3 linked regions of the Homo sapiens genome follow. The protein of the gene in region 2 interacts with the protein of the main gene of each other region in a pairwise test. Each region holds a gene or a part of one and is shown on either strand. Other genes may lie near its edges.

What was found. The genes of interacting proteins can lie anywhere in the genome.
Region 1: the proteins of ZNF574 (region 2) and POU6F2 interact in binary tests that used the Homo sapiens proteins (3 or more experiments, as listed by UniProt).
Region 3: the proteins of ZNF574 (region 2) and LHX3 interact in binary tests that used the Homo sapiens proteins (3 or more experiments, as listed by UniProt).

Annotation. Positions count from the first base shown.
Region 1 is NC_000007.14:39,204,891-39,211,924, reverse strand, and holds part of POU6F2 (POU domain, class 6, transcription factor 2), read right to left. Parts: intron 4,534-7,034; coding exon 4,305-4,533; intron 1-4,304. UniProt on the Homo sapiens protein: Probable transcription factor likely to be involved in early steps in the differentiation of amacrine and ganglion cells. Recognizes and binds to the DNA sequence 5'-ATGCAAAT-3'. Isoform 1 does not bind DNA.
Region 2 is NC_000019.10:42,079,149-42,082,069, forward strand, and holds the end of ZNF574 (zinc finger protein 574), read left to right. Parts: coding exon 1-2,149; 3' UTR 2,150-2,404; downstream 2,405-2,921. UniProt on the Homo sapiens protein: May be involved in transcriptional regulation.
Region 3 is NC_000009.12:136,202,113-136,209,645, reverse strand, and holds the start of LHX3 (LIM/homeobox protein Lhx3), read left to right. Parts: upstream 1-4,517; 5' UTR 4,518-4,633; coding exon 4,634-4,712; intron 4,713-6,456; exon of another isoform or gene 6,457-6,606; coding exon of another isoform or gene 6,607-6,700; intron 6,701-7,533. Other genes in the region: QSOX2 (sulfhydryl oxidase 2 precursor), read left to right, coding at 371-918. UniProt on the Homo sapiens protein: Transcription factor.

The DNA of each region.
Region 1 (7,034 bases), on a different chromosome or scaffold from region 2:
AAATGGAACATGAGTGAACCGGAATCATGGTTCAGCCAAAAGCCATCCAATGCAGTAGAGAAACGTCCTGGAGGGCGCAGGAGAAGACAGGGAGATGGGTCATTAGTCATTCTGGGTGTGGGGATTAGATGCCTGCCTCCTGCAGAGGAGAGGATGATACAGCCTGCAGCCTTGTGGTTTGCTGGATGCTCTAATGCCCAAATTCATTCCAGGTTCCAATGAGGCTGGGTTACAGGGCTGTTCCTAGGATCCTGCAAGATGTCTAACTCCTTACAACTGTGTATCTTCTTACAATAAGAACTCATCACTGATGAGACAGGAATCAATCTCTTTCTTGCTGGGAAGGATCTGAGAGAAAGATAAAATAATTCCCAGGCCACACATACAGGTTTTCTGCTGAGTTATAAGGTCTTTTTATCAGCAAAGCAAAACTTTCATTGGATAAAATCTCAGAGCAAGGACTTCAAGAGGGCTTCCACTATGTAAGAGAACTTCCCTTGGTCTTGAGGATATGAAACTCCTAACAGAAGCAAAAACGTTCCCACACATTATTCCTTTCTGTCATTCTCATCTGGAGGCCTGGGGTGGTGAGTGAGAGCGGGAGCATTAATAAGGACATTCACTGCCTTCATGTGGGTCATCCATTGTCATAAGAGTCTCTGATTCTGGCTGCTGGTGATATTGGGGGATGCCATGGACTGGGTGTTTGTTCCTCCCAACCCACCAAGTTTTTATGTTGAAATCCTAACCCCCAAGGTGATGGTATCAGCAGGTGAGGCCTCTGGGAGTTGATTAGGTCATAAGGGTGGAGCCCTCATGACGAAATTAGTGCCTTTATAAAAGGAACCCTGAGAGTTCTCTCATACCTTCTGTGGTGGGAGGACACAGTAAAAAGACAGACATCTATGAACCAGGAAGTGGGCCTTCACCAGAACCAAATCTGCCTGTGCCTTGATCCTGGACTTCCCAGGCTGCAGCACTGTGAGGAATACAATCTGTTGTTTATAAACCACCCTACCTATGGTTTTTATGTTATAGCAGCCCAAACAGACTAAGGCAGGGAGTTGCCTAATGAACTTTGAATAATCTCCCTAGATCAGCATTTCTTAAACTTTAATGTGCATGGGGATTATCTGGGGATCTTTTAAAAATGCAGATTCTGTTCCGAGAGTCTTGGGTATCTCGGGTAGAGCCTGAGATCCTGTATTTCCAGCAAGCTCCCAGGAGACATTGATGCCGCTGGTCTGGGGACCATGTTTTAAGAGGAGATTGTGATATGACCCCCGCTGTCAGAGTCGAGAAGAGCTGCTCTCAGTGTAACAGCATGTCATGAGTGCTCATTAAAATACATGTGTAAATCATGGCCTCCAAGGCTCTGAGAGCTATTCTGTGTGACTTGATAGGGGATGTAAATGAACACGCTCTCAATCACTTCAGTAAAAAGGAAAATATTTGAAAACTTATCCCTGAATTCCAAACCATTAAGAGACTGATGTCAGCAACTTTTTTTTTTCCTTTCATCCTAGCAAATTTGTGACTTTTGAGCTAGAAGAATAGACAGGCTAGAGGGCTGGGTAGGAAGGCTGGAGATAATTCCAGTTGGCCGAACTGTTTCATGAATAAAAGCTTAACACTTCACAATGAGGAAAAGGGCACTATTCATGACCAAGCATGTTACATGGTAACAGGCTGTGCTTCAGACTAGGTGTGCAGACTAGGTATGAAACCTGCCCCTCACAATGACCCACCAAATATGTTTTATAAAATCACTGGAGAAGTGGGGTGTTTATTATAGACGAGCAGACTTAAGAGTTGTTTTTAAAGACTCTGAAAAGCCTTGGGTTGATAAATACTGTATTTATTGTACAGGAAAGAGATGGGGGAAAGGAAACAGCCTTCTCCCCTCGCTGTTGACTGCATGAATGCATGTAAGGATTCCTTCTAAGGTACTGATAGTCCATTTACAAGACTCTCACCCTTAACTCTCACCTTTGAGAGAGGATGAGATTTGAGGTCATCCTGAAGACTAGCTCAGTCTCAGAACCCCTGCAGATGACCTTTCAGCCTGTCAGACATTCACTCACCATCCCGAGTCCCACTGCTTCTGCAACATAACCTGGAAAGCTCCACAAGCCATTGATTCTGCCTAGGGATTATCAAGGGCTGTGCAATAGGTCGCCTAAAGGTGGGAAAATCAGCTTTGGGATGGCTGCTGGTGGATTGATTACAAGGTGACCACTGGCTTTGCCCTTTAGGTGGTGGACATTTATCTTGGGCACTTTTGAGGCATGAGACTTTCCTGATTACCATCCTTATTGCCCTTGAACTTCTCGTTAGGATGACCACCTCTTTCTGGGTTACCTGAGACTTATACTAATTAGAAAGCTTTTCCTATAACCAGCTGATTTGCAACTGGGAGGTGATTTATTCTAATAACCTCATCACCTTCCCTCCAACGTCAGTCAAATTTCAAAGAGGAAGACAAAGGGGGAAATGTTCACTTGTGCTTGTGTAGCAGACAAGAGCTTGGGCGTCAACTCCAACCCACTTCTGAAGATGATGCTGAGAGGGAAATTGTGTCAGAAGTGCCCAGGGATAAGAAAAGCAAGAACTTTTGTTTCCCCTACTTAATCAGGCTACAAAGCTTGGGATTCCTTTTCTGAAACCAGAGGTGACTCAAAGAACCAAACTCCAAACTATACGCTAATAATGAACTTTGATATTTACAACAAACAAAAACAAAAGGGAAAATCTTGGTGGAAGAAGTCCACGTTGGACCAATCATTAATTTTGAACCCTTAAAAAAACAGGTACTAATATCTTAAGAATATCAAACTATGATCAAGAAATAACAAGCCTACTTTTTTTTTAAACTCTGATTTTTGGCAACCATCTTAACCAAGCAGGATTAATTCATGGCCTAGGAGCTCTTTGAGCTTATGTTTATTTATAATATTCAATATTCCCATAAGCACAAATGTTCCAAACGGAAGGCTGCATTTTGATAATGCCCATTTCTTCATTAAGATTTCATCATCCACCTACATTAAAACGCCTCTCCCTACACTTTGTTGCTTCGGCTTTCACCTTGTGTATTCCTGCTTTATTTGCTTAATCTTGAGATCTGGCTTCCCAGGCACTCTCAAATTTGAAACAAGCAAAGTTTGTGCATTAGCGTATCCTGGGCATGCATGATTTATGAATGGCAGGTTTCTTGGCACAATTTAATGGTACAAGAGAGACTTCGTTTTAAACATCAAAATGGAAGTCAAGAAGTGGCAACAATGGGTGGGGTAACAGAACATAGAGAACGGAAAGAAGTTTGGGTCAAGAGTGAACAGTTCTTACTTGGTCTGTTTCTTAGTCTTGTGGACTGATTCTCCGATAAATTATATGAAGCCCTAACATTTGACCAGCTAAAAAAGTATTTTAAATTGCTATTCTGATAACTTACCCAGACAGGCCCTCATTCTGCAAAAATTTTAATTGTTAATTTTATATATATATGAAGAAAACAAACATCTTTGACTAGTCCAAAATAAATTCATTTTCTCTTTAGCAGGCATCCTATTTATATTCAGGTCATTTTCCACCAAAATAATTACTCCTCTGACAGAATCTTTTGTAAATCAATCTATCAGTCAATGCTACCAAATCTTTTAAAGAAAAGTCAAAACCTTCATAATATCAAGACAACTACCCTTCCTAAGTAAAATTAGAGTCTGACTTGTTATATGTCCCTGTAGTATAAAGGCTCAACATACAAGTCTATTTTTCTCATTGCAAAATATGAGCTCAAATAACACAATTTTTGTTTAATAACTATAACTAAAACATACTTTGTAGAGCAAAATAATCATTAATAAATTATTCCAAATAATATCTTGTATTTGAGATGTTCCAATCACTTCAAACACAAAAAAGCAACCTCTAACTTTTCTTTACCCATGGCTAAATTGAAGAATTGGTGAGATGATAACTCAGGTCTTCAAATAACAACACAGGAATTTTACTTTTAAGTTTCTGATATGTCATGCAATGATGACTCATAAATGCTTCCAGGAGTCCTGAAAAGTTTTGATACCAATGTTAGGAAATGAGGATTGATAAAACCAATGGCTTGTGCAGGCTCAGGATTCACAGACAACTGAAAATTTTGCTTCCTGTGGAAGCCTTCCATATCATTTAGGGCAGAAGCAACTCTGAACCACATTCACCATTCTAGGCACATTTTTTTTTGCCCACTTCAGAGAATACTGGCCAACGGGTAGAGCCTTACGTGGCGCATGGACATTATGGATTACCTTGTAGATTTTGCAGTGGCAGAGTCATAATGCCTCCGGCTGCAGCTGCTGCCACCAGCCCTTGGATGTTGGTGAGATTCGCTGTTGGCAGTGTGAGAACCAGTCCTTGCTGGCCTCCTAGCTGTCCCGCCATGTTGAAGGGAATGAGGATTGGCTGGTTGAGGGCTGGGGGGCCTCCCGGCATCACGCCGGCCACAGCAGAAGCTAACTGCTGTGCCGTCAGAAGTGGCTGCAAGGAAACAGATACAGCTAGCTCACTTTCCTGTGGAACCAAGGCATGGGTTTTAAAAACATCTTCTTTCCACTTAAGTAGGGTCAGAAAGTTCCCGAAGAAGTACCAAAAAACATGCCCTATCTCATTAAAAAAAAATGATTGGTAGAAAAAAATTTTCAAAGTTGCATTTCATTGATTTCTTTGGAAAATTTCATTTGGTTTGGACTTCTTGTGAGGAACTCAAATATCTTTACAAGTAATAACTTACGTTTATATGCTACTCTTCCATTGAGTTTCCATTTGATCCTATCTTCATATATTTGAAGCTCTCAGCTAATTTATTCTCTGTTGTTCCAGAAAGAACTCATTGGGATCAGTGGGATTTTTTGATTCAAAAAGAGCAACGAAATACTACTTTTGACTTTTAAATTAACAAAAATAATGTAGAAAATTTACTCAATGCTGGAAAGTCTGTATTGACACCATTATGCAGATCTATGGCTGGGGGACATGTACACTAGCATAATCCTTTTGGAAAGCAATTTAGAAATAGATTATCAAGAGCTGCAAAAATATTTATCCCCCTTTAACTCAGAATATACTCCTAGGATATAGCTTGAAGATATTATTCAAAAGGAAATAAGATAACTGCATAAAAACATGTATTGTTTCAAAATACATAAATATTGAAAATAGCTTATTACAGTACTAAACTAGATGAAATATTGCATAGTCATTAAAATGGATCATTATGACACCTCTTTAGAAAAATAGAAAATGTTTATAATATGAGAATAAAATAGAAAGTAAGCTGGATAACTATTAAGTAAACTTGAATGATTATTGTTAAAATGGTAGAATTATGTATGTACAATGACAAGATCTAAAACAGAATGTAAGACATAAAAATATTTGATGTGGATAAAACTTAAAATCTTTGAAAATAATTCTTTTGTTATTACTCTAACATCATTTGCCCAATTAAAATGATATTATACAAACACATGTTTACATCCACTATGGATGGAACAGCCCTTCTCTGGTAGGGAAAGGCAACTGCTCGGCATGTTTTGAGTGCAGCACGTGGGCTCTTCACCAGGATGACATGGGAAGGATTCCTGCCCTGGTCAAGCCAGATGACCACAAGAGTCATTTGATCTTAGAGTCCTTGATTCAGGACTTTCATTGCAGCCTTGTGGGAGCCATGTGGAACATAATAATCCTGTATCTGTTGTTCTTCTACAAGAACCAATGCAAAACTCTTATGTGAGGGGTAGGAAATTAAATACAGGCATACTACTAAGCTCAATGTATAATAGCCAGGCACTATTCTAATGCTGTAGTTAATCTACCAATGAGATACAGAGAGGTTAGTAACTTGCCCAAGTCCCATGTCTAGTTGAGAGGGGGTTCAAGTTCAAGCCCAGGAAGGCTGCTCCACAGCCCATGTTTTACCCCTTTCTTGTATCCCCTCCAATACAAAGAACAGATTTAGAGAAGTGGGGCTGCTTTATCTGAAGAATGAGGGGAGGTGTGGAGAGGGCTAAGCCCATACTTGGCCATTCCCTGCAGTGTTCCTTTCAGGACCCTTTGGGGGAGACTCTGCAGAGCCCTAGGATTCTGCACAGCTGAGTTTAGAACTGCTGCTTTAGACCCCACAGGCCTTGCTCCTAATGTATTTGTGCACTTTGCTAAATTCACACCAAGTAACTGTGCTTCCCTTTTTAAAAAAATACAGTTATTCTAATGAGCAAAATAAATATACTTCGGGAATGTATACAAAATTATATGCTGGCCCTCAGATTCCAGGTGTTACATCACTGCCAATAGTGATATTATGGTAAGAGGGAAGGCAAATAAGTAGCTCTCAGACCATATATGGGTCATAGATTTGGGGGTTTTGGCCTGCAGCATTTTAAAAATAGGATTTGTGGGCTCAAGGCAGGGCATGCACTCTCCAGTTTGTCGGAGGGCCACCACTCCTCACTGACCTGGGCCTGTGGGGCTGCCTACCCAACCTGAAGGCATTAGAGTGTGTTACCCCCAGTATGTTCACAGGCAGGTGTGCAGACATACACACACACAGACACACATAATTACATGAACACACACACAATGTTACAAGCATAAAATTATAAAGCGTATGACACCAAAAATCCTGTTCCTGAGAGTCCCAGGAAAACTCTCTAGGCTTCCATAAGCCAGCAGACATTTCCCCAGGCTTTCTGTCCACAGGCACAGAGTGATCTGTCCTCCGAGATGGACTACGGGATCTGAGGCCATAGGGAGTCTTGGTGGCGAGTGGAATAAGAATGTCAAGGCCAACCCTCACTCTAAACTTGGGTGAGCCCTCAATGTGCTTAAAGTCATTAACTTCCAGGAGCAATAATGACAATAAAAGGGAGAGAAAGGCCCAAGTCTCAGCTTCTCTTTCCAAAAAAGCAGGATGAACTCTGAAAGCTTCACACTAAATGATAGAGGTAAAAAGGAAAAAAAAAAAAAAAAGCCCAGCCTTT
Region 2 (2,921 bases):
CTCATACCGAAAGGCAGAAGAGGGTGGGGAAGGGGCGACTGTCCCATCTGCCGCTGCCACCACCACTGAGGTAGTGACTGAGGTGGAGCTGCTCCTCTACAAGTGCTCTGAGTGCTCCCAGCTCTTCCAGCTGCCGGCGGATTTCCTGGAGCACCAGGCCACTCACTTCCCTGCTCCTGTACCCGAGTCTCAGGAGCCTGCCTTACAGCAGGAGGTGCAGGCCTCGTCACCTGCAGAGGTGCCTGTGTCTCAGCCTGACCCCTTGCCAGCTTCTGACCACAGTTACGAGCTGCGCAATGGTGAAGCCATTGGGCGGGATCGCCGGGGGCGCAGGGCCCGGAGGAACAACAGTGGAGAAGCAGGCGGGGCAGCCACACAGGAGCTCTTCTGCTCAGCCTGTGACCAGCTCTTTCTCTCACCCCACCAGCTACAGCAGCACCTGCGGAGTCACCGGGAGGGCGTCTTTAAGTGCCCCCTGTGCAGTCGTGTCTTCCCTAGCCCTTCCAGTCTGGACCAGCACCTTGGAGACCATAGCAGCGAGTCACACTTCCTGTGTGTAGACTGTGGCCTGGCCTTCGGCACAGAGGCCCTCCTCCTGGCCCACCGGCGAGCCCACACCCCGAATCCTCTGCATTCATGTCCATGTGGGAAGACCTTTGTCAACCTTACCAAGTTCCTTTATCACCGGCGTACTCATGGGGTAGGGGGTGTCCCTCTGCCCACAACACCAGTCCCACCAGAGGAACCTGTCATTGGTTTCCCTGAGCCAGCCCCAGCAGAGACTGGAGAGCCAGAGGCCCCTGAGCCCCCTGTGTCTGAGGAGACCTCAGCAGGGCCCGCTGCCCCAGGCACCTACCGCTGCCTCCTGTGCAGCCGTGAATTTGGAAAGGCCTTGCAGCTGACCCGGCACCAACGTTTTGTGCATCGGCTGGAGCGGCGCCATAAATGCAGCATTTGTGGCAAGATGTTCAAGAAGAAGTCTCACGTGCGTAACCACCTGCGCACACACACAGGGGAGCGGCCCTTCCCCTGCCCTGACTGCTCCAAGCCCTTCAACTCACCTGCCAACCTGGCCCGCCACCGGCTCACACACACAGGAGAGCGGCCCTACCGGTGTGGGGACTGTGGCAAGGCTTTCACGCAAAGCTCCACACTGAGGCAGCACCGCTTGGTGCATGCCCAGCACTTCCCCTACCGCTGCCAGGAATGTGGGGTGCGTTTTCACCGTCCTTACCGCCTGCTCATGCACCGCTACCATCACACAGGTGAATACCCCTACAAGTGTCGCGAGTGCCCCCGCTCCTTCTTGCTGCGTCGGCTGCTGGAGGTGCACCAGCTCGTGGTCCATGCCGGGCGCCAGCCCCACCGCTGCCCATCCTGTGGGGCTGCCTTCCCCTCCTCACTGCGGCTCCGGGAGCACCGCTGTGCAGCCGCTGCTGCCCAGGCCCCACGGCGCTTTGAGTGTGGCACCTGTGGCAAGAAAGTGGGCTCAGCTGCTCGACTGCAGGCACACGAGGCGGCCCATGCAGCTGCTGGGCCTGGAGAGGTCCTGGCTAAGGAGCCCCCTGCCCCTCGAGCCCCACGGGCCACTCGTGCACCAGTTGCCTCTCCAGCAGCCCTTGGAAGCACTGCTACAGCATCCCCTGCGGCCCCTGCCCGCCGCCGGGGTCTAGAGTGCAGCGAGTGCAAGAAGCTGTTCAGCACAGAGACGTCACTGCAGGTGCACCGGCGCATCCACACAGGTGAGCGGCCATACCCATGTCCAGACTGTGGCAAAGCGTTCCGTCAGAGTACCCACCTGAAAGACCACCGGCGCCTGCACACAGGTGAGCGGCCCTTTGCCTGTGAAGTGTGTGGCAAGGCCTTTGCCATCTCCATGCGCCTGGCAGAACATCGCCGCATCCACACAGGCGAACGACCCTACTCCTGCCCTGACTGTGGCAAGAGCTACCGCTCCTTCTCCAACCTCTGGAAGCACCGCAAGACCCATCAGCAGCAGCATCAGGCAGCTGTGCGGCAGCAGCTGGCAGAGGCGGAGGCTGCCGTTGGCCTGGCCGTCATGGAGACTGCTGTGGAGGCGCTACCCCTGGTGGAAGCCATTGAGATCTACCCTCTGGCCGAGGCTGAGGGGGTCCAGATCAGTGGCTGACTCTGCCCGACTTCCTCTTTGGCACCTCCATTCCCTGTTGCTGAAGGCCCTCCAGCATCCCCTTAAGCATCTGTACATACTGTGTCCCTTCCTCTTCCCATCCCCACCACCTTGTAAGTTCTAAATTGGATTTATTCTCTCGTGAGGGGGGTGCTCTGGGGTCCTTGACACACATAAAGGTGCCCCCCCACCTTCCACCTCTTAGCACTGGTGACCCCAAAAATGAAACCATCAATAAAGACTGAGTTGCCAGCAGTGTGTAGAGTGGAATTTGGGAGTCATGGGTCTTACCTCTCGTGGCTGCATCACCAACACCCAGAAGTGGGCCTGGCAGGTATTAGGGGTAGTAGGAGCTCAGTAAACATTTGCTGGGCTGAAGAGAATGACCTGGTGTTCATGGGCATGGCTCTCATAGCAGGGCCTTCACTTCACTGCTAGATGGAGGTAGCATGGCTCTCTTGCCACTAGAGGTCCCATGGCTCTGTGGAAAAGCTCAAGAGTGTTTGTACTGGTGGCAGGAACTTTCAGAGAAATCAGATTTTTACACTCCTGTCCCTGACTCCTGGCCTGATGTGGACCTTGTCTCCCAAGGCCATCTGATTTTCTCATTGATCCCCAAGAGCAAATGCAGGTAGGCATGATCTCTAGAGCTGTGGAATTAAAGGAGATTCTGAATAATATGTGTCTGGATGTAGGAAGATTCATGAGAGGTGGTGACTTGAATTCCCCTGGAGTTGGACTTTGGCTCAGCCAACAGATTTTTATTGTGAGT
Region 3 (7,533 bases), on a different chromosome or scaffold from region 2:
CAGCACTGTGCGGAGAAAGGCCTCCAGGTGAGAGCTGCATGCTCCGTTTTGGAAGTGGAGTGCTGGGTGGTTTGGGACAGGTGTGGTCTGGGAAGTGGCGGAGGCCGAGCGTGTAGCGTCTCCTCACTTGCAGGCTATGGGAACCGGCAGAGGGGAACACGTGCGCAGGGGCCTGCAGAAGCAGGATGTTATCTGGGCCGAACTGCAAGGGACGGGTGGTGGGAAGGGCAGGGAGGGAGGCCTGGCAGGACCCTGGGCCAGGGCAGTGGAGGCCCGTGGTGGGTGGGAGTGGGAGTCCGGTTGCCGCACGCTGCACGTGGCTGCACAAAGCCTCCTTCCCTCTGGCTCTCCCGCTTCCTTTTCTTCCTAGGCCATCTGAGTGAGGATCCCCGGTTTCCAAAGCTTCAGTGGCCCACTCCGGACCTCTGCCCAGCCTGCCATGAGGAAATTAAGGGCCTGGCCAGCTGGGATGAAGGCCACGTGCTCACATTCTTGAAGCAGCACTATGGCCGCGACAACCTCTTAGACACGTATTCCGCAGACCAGGGGGATTCCAGTGAAGGAGGAACCCTGGCCAGGGGTGAGGAAGAGGAGAAAAGACTCACTCCCCCAGAGGTGTCCCATGGAGACCGAGACACCCAGAGCGTCCGTCCACCTGGTGCACTGGGCCCCAGGCCTGCCCTTCCAGAGAGCTTGCATCACAGCTTGGACGGGAAACTCCAGAGTCTGGATGGGCCCGGGGCCCACAAGGAGGTGGGCGGGGCCGCACCCTTCCTCGGGGTTGACTTCTCCAGCCTGGACATGAGTCTCTGTGTCGTGCTGTACGTGGCTTCATCCCTGTTCCTCATGGTGATGTACTTCTTCTTCCGGGTGAGGTCCAGGCGGTGGAAGGTCAAGCACCACCACCCGGCCGTGTGAGTGCCCGGGTGCTGCCAGCCACGGCGGAAGCTCCCTTGGAGGCAGCCCTGCCCCGTGCCACCTGCAGCTTTAATATTTATGATCAGGGATTTTATAAACATGCGGGCCTGGTTTCACATCGGATGGCACCTTTTGGCTTCAAAGTCCTGGTTTTACAAACGCTCTTCTAACAAGGGAAGAACACGGGGTAATTTTGTGGGGATATTTGCATTCCTGGCGTACTCAAGTCTGTTCATGCTCCTTTTGCAGGTCTTACAGCAAAAAGACTTCTGTATTTTTACTCTTCTAGATGTGAAAAGAGGGTGCAGAGTCCAGGCCAGATAGTCTTCCCCACACACTTTCATCTCGTTTCCTCCACTCCGCCCCATCCTGCAGGGCCTTGTTTTTGTATTTGGAGAACCTCGCCCATCCCCCCCGCGGCTCCTGGCTCCCCCCCACTCCCCTCGCTCCCCCTCCCCCCGCTCCCCCCACGCCCCCTGCTCCAGGCTGCCAAGTGTTTTCCTTTAGCCGGGCGGGGACAGACAGAGCCGGAAGCGCAGTCGGCCTCTGCAGCCCCTCCAAGCAAGTGCTCCAGGGACTATCCTGTGTTTGTAGCTGCTTCCCTAGGGCAGGTTCCTGAGGGCTCTCCTTGTTCCTCCGGGTGTTCGACACCAGACGTGGGGATTTCAACAGGGGAGGAGCCAAGGAATTCTGTGGCTGTGCTGCGTTTCAGAAAATAACCCCCAGAGGCCTTGGGCTGTGGACCTGGGGGTTGGAAGGATGGGGGCTCATTTAACCCTCAGAGGCAGCGCCTTTGTCTGTCTATCTGGTGACAAGAGAGAGACAAGTAAATGGGGGCCGTTGGGACGGCGGGTGCCTGGAGGGCAGCTCTGGGCTCAGCGGGCAGTGCTTAGAGCACAGGCCCCTCTGTTGGGGGATGGGGAGGAGAGCAGTCTGCCCTTGGGAGCGTAGGCCCCAGGGAGACTTCTAAAGCCCCCCCTGTCGTCTGCTCTTCACCCAGCACCACAGAGGCACCTGCTGCACACACAAGCATCTCACTCGGCCCACGGAGGGGGCCAGGCTTCCTTTGCCTGAAGCTGTTTTGGGAAGGGTCTCCACACAGGCACTGATCTCCCAAGCTTTTGTCATGATGTCTTTTACCATTTGATAATTTTAAACATTGTTTTTAAACCCAAAACATTTAGTGGTCCGTTGCCTCTGAAGATGTAAACAAACAAATACACTATTTCTGGGAACATTTATATTGAGATTCTTTGTGGCTATTGGTGTGTCTCACAGGCAAAATTTGATTTGGCTAAAATAGGCTCAGATGTATTTGTGTGCCCGTGTGTGTGTGTGTGTGTGTGTGTGTGTGTGTGTGTGTATGAGAGAGAGAGAGACTTTGACGGTTGTAGATATTTTTTCCGCTTTGCCTACTTTATGTTGTATAATCATGTGTTTACTAACAAGTTGATGACATGGATGTATTCATAAGACCATGTAATATTGATGTGATTGTTGTCGCTTGAGAAAAAAAGGCAACAGCTGATTCTTTCAACAACTGTCACAGAATGGCTGGGCTGAGAACGCTGCCCAGGGCCCTGCAGCTGGCGGGAGAGGTGTCTGGTGGGAGCGGTGTCTGGTGCGTCAGCCTGCTGCTTCGTGTCTCACTCGAGAGTTGCTTCTGGTTTCACACTTTTTAACCCCTCTGTGCTTTAGCAGCCGTGACCTTGCCTTCATTGCTTCATCCAGTGCAGGCCTGGGTTATTGAAGACACCAAAGTGTTTCTCTTCCAGTTTGAAAACCAGGCAGGTTTACACGTGGGTTTCAGTGTATTTGCCTTTGAACCCTTCAAACTAAACTTTAGCCTTTTGGCTGGTGTTGAATGTCTTTAGCTGGGGTGACCTGGAGTGACCTGGGACGGTGTTGTGGTTTACCGTCTCCAGCTTCAGCCTTTCCAGAAACCCTTGTGGAGGGCAGTGTTGGCTGCAGGTTTCATCATATTGCAGTTTGAGGTCACCACTATTTGGGGAACAAGCTTGCGTCCTGCTGAGGGGCAGGATTTTCAGCAGAGCGTCGGTGGGGCTGGGCCGTCGTGGAGGTGGCCCCAGGAGTCATATGGCCATACTCAGACACACCTTGTGTGGCCTGCTCAGAGCTGGATGCCACCTTTAGGCAATGTTTAGAGTCTATTTTCTAAAGTTTTAAGTATTTTAAGAGGTATTGAGACTAATGAATATAATAGTTCAGTAATTTAAATGCTTATTTATTTTCAGTGGAAGGATTTTTATTAAAAAGAAGCTAATTGACATGGAAATGTCAGTGAAATTTCTTACCTGCAAGGAAAGTGAACATTTTGTATTTAAGTAAACTATAATGTGCACATTTTAATAAAGAAATCTGACATTTGAAAAAATGGTGATTCTTTTGAAATGTGAACCAGCTCTACCAGTGGGAGTTGTGGTAGAGGCGGTGGGTGCAGAATGGACCCCTCTTTTGTTCACGTACTGGACATCTGAAATCCTAGAGTTTCTCCTATCGAATCATTGGCTTTTGGGACACAGCCCAAGGGTCGGATGGAAAGTAGAAGATGGAAAGCAGTGATAGATCATCTCCCTGGAGCTGATCTGGACGAGACTCACAGGACAAGACCCTTGATTTTACACAGGTTAAAGGGCAGCTGAGATGCATGTCAGCTACACACTTCAAAGAGCACGCGCGGCAGCCCAGCCTGAGGGCACCTCAGAGGACCCCCAGCTTGCTTGAGTGGCCATCCCTCTGCTTCCTGGGTGTGAGTGTCCTGCTAAGGCTGTTTGTGGTGTTCTGTGGGGTGCCCTTGACCCCGTGTTGTCTTCTGCCCCTCCCCTACTTTTGCTGTGCCAGTGGGGGCAGGGCAGTGGTCAACAGTCTTGCCTGTGGCTGTGGAGGAAGCCGGTTGGCACCTCCCTGGCCAGGCTGTGCAGAGGCTGGCAGTAACTCAGTCACTCGTCAGGCACCGAGCAGACACCAGCCTGGGTGTGTACTGGGCGATTCCTTCAGGCCCTGCCTATGCCCAAGGTCTTGAGTCCTCAGCAGTGCTTTTGTTACAGGGGACTGCAGGTGCCTCTCCTCCTGGCAGCCCGGAGGGGTGCGGGCTGAGCTCCTCCCAGAAGTTGGGGGTTGAGTTCAAGGAGGTTAAGAGTGGAAAGTTCCCTGACCAGCAAAACACCTGCAGGAGAGTGCCCCAGTGAGCCCTGGGCTGGAGTTGATCACGCATGGGGCTGCCCCGGGGCACGGCCTGGGCACTGCCTTCCAGAGGCTGCACGCCAGAAGGGTAGGGTCAGTGTCCTCCTGCCCTGCGGCTGGACGACCCGCTTGCTGCGAAACTCGGCGAATCCCAGCGCCTCAGCAGGGCCTGGAGCTTAGGGAGGAGCGGGCACGGCCACCCTGGGTCTCAGAGGGGTGAGGGCGGGGGCTGCCTTGAGTGCGGCCCAACCCAGCCAGGGAGGGAGGCGCGCCCGACACGGGGCAGAGGCGGGGGTGGGGACCGGGGCGACGAGAGGGGCCCCGGGAGGTGGGCGGGCGCGCGGGCGGGGCGGGCAGCGGGCGCCTCCTTCAGCACCGCGGACAGCGCCAGGCCCAGTGGCTCCCGGGCTCCCTGCCCCGCACGACGCGGCGGGACTTGGGAGCCCCGAACCCTCCAGGGGACGCTGACCTAGGAGGAGCGCGTCTCGCGCCACTCGGCCTGGTGGCCGCGATGCTGCTGGAAACGGGGCTCGAGCGCGACCGAGCGAGGCCCGGGGCCGCCGCCGTCTGCACCTTGGGCGGGACTCGGGGTAAGCCCCAGCAGGACACTGAGGACAGAAACGGCAAGGGCGGCAGAGGCGCGAGGAAGGGGGTGCGTGCAGGGCCAGCGGCCAGGCAAAGAAAGTCCCGCCGCTCTGCAGGCGGGACACAGAGATGGAAACTGCAGAGAGTGAGTTTCCAGATCCCAGGGTGGCGGGGAGGGCCTGACGCTGGCCTGCAAGAGTGCGGGACAGCGGTTGGAGTGGAGGCCCCTAGAAAAAAAGGGGGCATCGCAGGCACAGCTGGGGGGCGATGGGGCCGACCAAGGGGTGCTAGGTTCCCCCGGTGACCAGTGCCCGTCAGCTCTTGCACACAGCCCGGCCCAGGTCTCTGGACCCCACAGCAGGGGACCCAAGCCTGTGTCTCCCGCCTGAACCACCCTCCCCAAGGGCCATTCCATCACCACGGACGCTGGGAAATAATGGAGGCATTGTTGGAGGGCTGGCCAGATGCCAGCAGGGTGGGCCGCCTCCTTAACCTGCCGCCGCCCCTTCCCCAGTCCTGCCACACACGACCCCTGATCGCTTCGGCAGCAGCTGACACTCAGCCACCTGCACCCAGCACAGCCCGCACACACTCGGCTTTGCACCCGCGTGTCCTTGCCCTGGCCCTTCTTGGGTAACAAGTGCTGTGCAAAGTGAAGGGGCAGAAAGCTGGCTGCATGGGCCACTGCTCAAAACGGACACATCGGACCTGCTGGGAGCTAGGAGGGAGGGACTGTGGTTTCTTGTGCCCATCCTTCTGGGCCTGGGCCCTTAAAGCTCACAGTCCAGAAGCCATAGGCAGAGTGGACAGAGTATTGCTGTGAGACCCACAGGGAGAGGGACCTGCAGGATGGCATCAGCCCCTGGTCCCCCAACCCTTCCTGTGTGTTTCTGCGCACTGCCAGGGCACCCCTGCCTTTGCCAAGTCCTGTGCTGCCGAGGGCCACCCACTGCTGTGTTCTTCCCCGGGTGGCTGCCCAGGGCTGGTGCTGGCCCAGGGCCCTCTGGGCAGGGGTGGGTGCGTCCCTCTGCCTGCAAGGACAGGTGGGTTCTGGAGAGCTCACCTGTGTGGACTGGGGCAAGAGGCTGAAATATCAGGTAAGGGACCGTGTTCCAATGGAGCCGGAGTGCTGGGGGCTGGAAATGGAAGGTGTGCCCTGGGGCTTCCCCAGCTCGGCCCCTCACGACCCGAGGTCTTGGCTGCGTGTCCAGGACACAGAGCCTGTTCTCTCTCAAGGATTGCCCTTCCTCCCTGAGCCGTCCGGGGCCGCAGTTCCAGGGGTGGAGCCCAGAAGCCTGTTAGCATCTGGGATCGGTCCGGCACCTTGCGGTTCCGGTACGCAGCCCTCGGCGCCACACTCACCCCTTCTGCGTTTCGGGTTGAGCTCCCGCCGACCATCTGCTGCTCCCGAGGCCAAACCTCAGCGGCGGGAGGACCCTGCTGCCTTCTCGACCCCTCTCCCGGGAACCTTAGCCCTCCTGGCGTGTGCTCCAGCTCAGGCCTCTGCCTCTGGGCCGCTCCGGCGCAGGAAGCTGCGGGGCCGGGACGAACGCTGGCGGGAAGCCCTGACCTGGGCCCTCCCTTACCGGTGCCCGCCCTCGGGCCGGGCACGCGGGGCGGCCTCTGGGCACCGCAGGTCCCGGCGCAAAGGCGCTCAGAGTCCGCAGTGGCCCGGGCTGGTCTCCGCGACCCCCGGCCCCGCCCCGCCCCGCGGCCCCGCCCCCCGGCCGCTCCGCCCTCCGCTCGGCCAGAGGCTCCGGGCCCCAGGGCGGCCCGCGGGCGCAGCGCCCAGCAGCACCCGGAGTCGCTTGGACGCCGGTTCGGGGCTATTGCGGGGTGGCGTCGCTGGGCCCGGGAAAGTTCGGGACTGGAGAGTGGCGACGCCGGGCGGCGGGACCCATGGAGGCGCGCGGGGAGCTGGGCCCGGCCCGGGAGTCGGCGGGAGGCGACCTGCTGCTAGCACTGCTGGCGCGGAGGGCGGACCTGCGCCGAGGTGGGTGCCCGGGCCGAGTGGCTGCACCGGGGAGACCAGGAGATCCTCAGGCCTTTCCGGGCCTGGCCGCGGAGGCTGGCAGGAGCTAGAGGATCTGGGCGGGAGTGGGCGCGAGGACCCCGGAACGTCCGCGCCTGGGCGCCTCAGCCTGTATTTGTTGCAGGGCCCCTGGCCTGGGTTGTCAGGGAGTGAGTGAGGTTGTGGCACTGCGCTGCTCCGGCCAGGGAGCTCTCGGGGGTCCAGGGTGGGCTTAGGAGACCTCTGCAGCCCGGAGCCAGCTCCCTGGGCTGGAGGAGGCGCAGGGAGCAGTGGCGGGGCAGTGACCACGGGACAGGAGGGTCCCCAAGAAGGCCGCCCCAGCCGGACTCTTTCCACGTTCCAGCGGAACAGAGTCAGATGCAGGGGCCAAGGTCGAGCTGAACTCCGACCGTCGGTCTCCCCGAAGTCAGGTTTCAGCGTCTGCGCCCACAGACACCCGCTCGGTTTATCCCCGCTCAGGGCCCGTCTGTAGGAAAAAGCCTCTCTTCTCCAGGCCCCCCAGCTTCCTGGTGGCACCACTCTAGCTCCCAGCACTTTGGTTCTTAGGGAACCTGGGCAGTTCTCCTCGACTCCCGGGCCAGCTGGAGCCGCAGGATGGGGAAGGAGGCCCCGGAGCCAGTGGGGAGTGAGAGGGACCGGCCGGCGGGAAGGGGGTTACATCCAGGCTGTGGGGGCTCGCGGTTCCCTACTTATTTATTTATTTTTCGACGGTTCCTGGGAGGGGTTGGCCGCGGGGGCTGGGGGGCGGAGAGAGGGAGGGAGGAAGGAGGACTGCGCGCCCGCGCTCGGGAGAG